2 separate regions of the Homo sapiens genome follow, and region 1 is linked to region 2. The links come from fine-mapping of genetic effects on gene expression. A gene starts in region 2. The other region holds a variant in brackets. All regions are shown on one strand. Distances are between the middles of the regions.

What was found.
Region 1: its variant is fine-mapped to the expression of PDE4D-AS1 in whole blood (TOPMed, PIP above 0.99).

The regions. Positions count from the first base shown.
Region 1 is chr5:59,113,782-59,116,281 of GRCh38, reverse strand. All of the region lies in intron 5 of PDE4D (phosphodiesterase 4D), which reads left to right. Among named protein-coding and RNA genes, the nearest start is that of PDE4D-AS1, 75 kb to the right of the region's middle. The variant C/T (reference allele first, on the strand shown) is at 974.
Region 2 is chr5:59,038,815-59,041,314 of GRCh38, reverse strand. It overlaps PDE4D-AS1 (PDE4D antisense RNA 1), which reads right to left and starts at 1,549. Exons shown (of 2, transcript NR_198970.1): 1 at 1,245-1,549. PDE4D (phosphodiesterase 4D) reads left to right here. Exons shown (of 15, transcript NM_001104631.2): 6 at 2,344-2,456. RefSeq lists a silencer at 2,111-2,180.

The DNA of each region.
Region 1 (2,500 bases), 75 kb before region 2:
CCTGGAAATCATTCCTTCTTGTTTACTCTGATTATATAATGGGGAATTGTATGCTTTATACAATTTTAATTTCTTGAATATATGTGCTCAAAAAACATTATAATGTGGTTCAGTACTATATATGCTGAAAACAGGTTGCTAATGAATTTGGACAAAGATTCCCATTTTATTTCCTGTACGTTTACACATTTTTTGGCTGTATATTATATTTACTATATATATTTATTAGGACTACAGCAAACGCTAATTCATCGACTGAGATAAGAAATGTGTTTTCCATTAATAATTATAAATCTGCCAGAAGATTGTGAGATTTACATTGTTGGGGATCTAAACAACCAAAATCATTGCAAAGTTATTTTAAAACTATTATTAATTATTTATGTAATCATAGATTATGGCTTGCAGAAGACTGAAGAAATTGTTCAACAAACCATGTAGGTTTTGTGGAAGAGCAGTAGACTTTGATAAGTAAGCTCAGAGTGGTCCATTAACCTTTTCTCTATATGTACATTATGTGTTGATAAGCATGATATCTATTATACCTCAATTATTAATAACAATATACATCCTAACTATTAAGAACTTAGCCTGCAACCCTAATAGTGTCCCCTTTCTTCTAGAACATAGATCAGCATAAGGAAGGAAGCAAAGGAGGTCTCTAAGCACTCAAAATAGATGTTCACAATGTTCACTCACTGAAGATAATGTAGGTCATTAGCCAGAGAAATGTATGTTCATATTTTAGTGATGATTCATACAAGCTTGGTCATGTGGTTCTAAACCTTCTATAATTGGATGAAGCAAATTAAGAAAGGCTGGGTAGGAGATTTCAGGGAAAGTCACAACTGATATTAGCCAAATGTCAGCTGATGGCCTGAAAACAACAACAGAAAAAGAAAATCTACAAAATCATTTGAAAACCACAGACATAGCTATTTGGGGCCTTTTTGAAAGGGGCAATAAGCTCAAC[C/T]CATCTTTGGAAACACTGAGCGCATCCTGTCTGGACAACTGAGTATAATTTTTGGTGTTCAAACTGATGACCCCAAATCATCAAAAAATACAAAATTATATTTTGCTCAATCTGTATTGCTCTTCTATATTATGGTAAGATTTCTGTTTAGTGCACTTAAAAGTAAGACTACCCCCAAATTTAATCCCCATCCCCTTCAATGTCTCCTCCTGGACATTGCTCCATCTATCGCCCCTTCTCCCTCTTTCTTTGACCTACTCTTTGATGGCTGCATCTCCTTCAAAACTGGTTGAAGTTCCTAAGGAAAAAATTCCCTTCCTCTTTGATCCTGTATCTTCCATCAGTTATTACCACATATCTCTATTGATTTTCGCACCCAAACTTCTAGAAAGTTTACACTTATCATTTTCTTTTTCTTTTCCCCCCACTTATTCCTCTACCCCCTTGAAGTTAGCTTGCAGCCCCACCACTCTGTTGCAACTACTGCTGTAGTTCCTCTGCTCTCCCAATTGCCAAACCAAGTAGATATTTTTCAGTTCATTTCTCATCAAGTTTCTCTAAGTCAATTGCCAGTGTATCCCTCTCAAAAACCTTTCCATCTTTGCATGAGGTCGTACACTCTTTCTTTTCCTTTCCCCCCACCCTTCCTTTGACCTGGGGTTCCCAGGATCCCATTCTCCATTCCTGCTTTCCTCACTCTGTGTGTCTTCCAAGACTGACTTGTGCATTCTTATTTTAATTACCACCTGTTTGCTGAAAGCCCCTAAATTTATATAGAAATCCATCTTAACCTCTTCTGCAAAGCTTGGAACCCCAATATTTATTGGAAATTCCCAACTGAGTATCCCATGGGTTTATAAAATTCTTCATATCCAAAACCAAATTTAGCTTTTCCTCTAAATTTGTGCCTCCTTATATATCTCAGTTGGTGACACTACCCAGCTATCATGTTCAGAAAATAAAATAAAAATACGTCATAAAAGCATCAAAACTCTATAAATTTATCCATGTAAGGATTGCCACCATTAATATATACTTTAAATCCTTCCAAATGTTTGTATACTTGTATATATTTAAAGGGATCATATTTGGTGACTTACTGCTATAACACATTTTTCCCATTTAACAAAAAAAAAATTTTTCTGCATCAAAGTATACTTCAAAATTATTTTTGTAGTTGCTCATGTTCTAGCAGTTATTTAACTAATAATGTTAAACATTTACATCATCTTTGCAACTTTATTTCTCTTGTTGCTTTTTTCTTAAGAAATGACTATTGAAAATGACCCCCAAAAGGGTATATAATATCAGTGATAAAAATTAGCTCTTGGAAAGGGAGGAGAGAATTTTCTAGTGTATGGTAGTAGCAGTAACAGTGGCCTAGTTACACTCAATATCTCAATATGTAATGCCATTTATGGACAGCTTACTATGTGCCACACTCTTTAAGGACTTTGCATAATCCTCACCACAAATCTGTGAGATTGGATACATTATTGTTCTTATTTCATAGTTGTGGAAACTGAG
Region 2 (2,500 bases):
GTGTGGGGTTACAATGGACTTCCTATATTTGTGTGTAATGCTTCAATTTTTATAACAAGCATGTAATATTTTTTACATTCTTAGAATTGGGGAAGCTATACAGAGCAGGTATTTTATATTTACCATTTAAAATTATTAATATCTTTAAGCTTGTTAAGGGGGAAAAAAAAGCTTCAATCTGAAACTTTAATTCACCTGGCAAGGTTTAGGCAGTTGTTTGTCCATCTAAAGTATATATTTACATAGACTGCGGGGTGGAGGAAGTAGAACAAAAAAGAGGCAAATTTTAACCTAGAGTACTCAAAGTGAACAGTAAATAGTTCAAGTATTCTTGATAACAATAAGCCACGTGGCACATGTAACAACTACTTTAAAAGTTACTCTAACTTTTACAAAGTTCACATAAAAAGCTATCTCAAAAATCCCAGGAGCCTAAATTCAGTCCATGAACTTTATTTGTTGTGCCATGTTAATTTATGGAGTCTAAATTTCAAGGGCAGAATTTCTTCTCCAATACCTGTAGATTCAAAGACAAAGACAAGGGATCCCACCACTTAGTGTAAGTTTCTCAGTATCTTCTTTCCACTCGACAATGACAAAGTTTTATCAAATGGACCCTTGGGAGTTTGACTTCTCCTCACTATGAATGGTTTGCTTATTGCATGCTAATGTAGAAAAGTTCTCCCACAACTGATCTGCTTAGGGACAGTGTCCCTGGTGCCCTGGGTCAGCCTTTGTAAACAGAACAGGCTTTTCTGTATGCCTTTGAATATGGTCTTTCCGTTTTCTCAAAATTGTAGTGTACTCTGCACATGGTGGGTAGAAACACCCTTCCAGATTTTCTTCCTTGGCCCAAGATCATCTAGGTCTTATGCAATTCACAGGGGAAAGGAGTAGTATGCAGGACATGCGTAAATTCTCCTTACCATGTGGTTCTTTCACATTGCTGTTCCTTTAAGAGAACTCTTAGGCAATTCGGCATATGAAAATGCAGCCTATTGTCAAATTTGTGAATTATAAAGCGTTCCGACCCCACAACATTGTATATTTTGTTTGCTTGTTTCTGTCCGCCCCAACATTTAGAAGTCTGGTACTTAGTAGGGACTGGGCTGGGTAGAAAAAGAATGCGGTCTTAATTCCCACAACCCTGCCTCCTTGAAGTAGGTGAATCCTAAGCCTTTAGAAACGAACCCCCAGAAACCCTAAAACTTAAACCCTCAGAAACCTTGAGGGTCCTAAATAACCTTGTTTGTGAAACTTCGCAGGAAGCAGCCGGTCGTGGAGTCGCAGAGGCTCCAGCGGTCTGGGCAACCTGGAGGGCAGTGGCTCGGCGGGGCGCGCGGGGTTCTAGCGAGACAGGTGCGCGGCCGTGCGCGCCTGCGTGCCGGTCCCTCCTGAGCCCCGCGGCGGGCGCGACCCCGGACGGCGGACTGCAGGCGCTCCACGCCGGGTTTTCCGCCGCTCTCCTAGCACAGACAGTCCCACAGCAGCCCCACAGACACACACGCTCGCGCCCGCGCCTCCTCGTCTGCACTTCAAAGCGAGTGGCGCCCGGCTGCGCCGGGGGGATGGCACTGCGAGGTGGCGGGGCCCCCGGGGCAGAGCTCGAGGGGAAGGACGCGGCGGGTGGCACGGACAGGGACAGGCTTTTGCAATTCGGAATCTTTTCGTAAGGGGGTTGAGGAGGAGCCAGGCAGCGCCGAGGGCCGAGAGGGGCGTGAGGGGGAGTGTTCCCGGAAAGCTGCGGCGTTGGAGCCGCGCTGCGCCTGCCGCCCGAGGAGTTGAGAAAGAAAACAGGAAACGTGGTGGCCGCGCACCCGGCCGCGGCTGATTCATTCACTTCAAGTGCCGTGCAGAAGGCTCGGCAGGCGGGGCGGGCGTGGGGCCGCGGCTCCGGGTTGGGGACCGAGGAGATCCGGCTGTGGACCAGACGCTCCTCTGCGGGGCGGGCACCCAAGCGCGCTCGCCACCCCCTCGCCATCCGCTAGAGCCGGGCTCCTGGACTGGGACTCGGGCCCGCCGCACAGTTGAAAAGTCGCATAGTGGTTTTTCCGCTCGCGTCGCTGTGTGAAAGTTGGCTCGCCGCTCTTTGCACGCCCTCCCTGGAGGCCGACCCGAGACGCCAAGCTGGAGAGACCGTGCCTCCCCGAGGCCGGCCGCCCCGCGAGCACAGCCTCCGCCCCCGTTGCACTGCCGGGCTGGGCAATATGAAGGAGCAGCCCTCATGTGCCGGCACCGGGCATCCGAGCATGGCGGGGTATGGCAGGATGGCCCCCTTTGAACTCGCTAGCGGACCCGTGAAGCGCTTGAGAACTGAGTCCCCCTTTCCCTGTCTCTTCGCAGAGGAGGCCTACCAGAAACTGGCCAGCGAGACCCTGGAGGAGCTGGACTGGTGTCTGGACCAGCTAGAGACCCTACAGACCAGGCACTCCGTCAGTGAGATGGCCTCCAACAAGGTAAGCCCCGGTTCTGCTGTCACTGGTGCCCCCAGGCTGCTGAT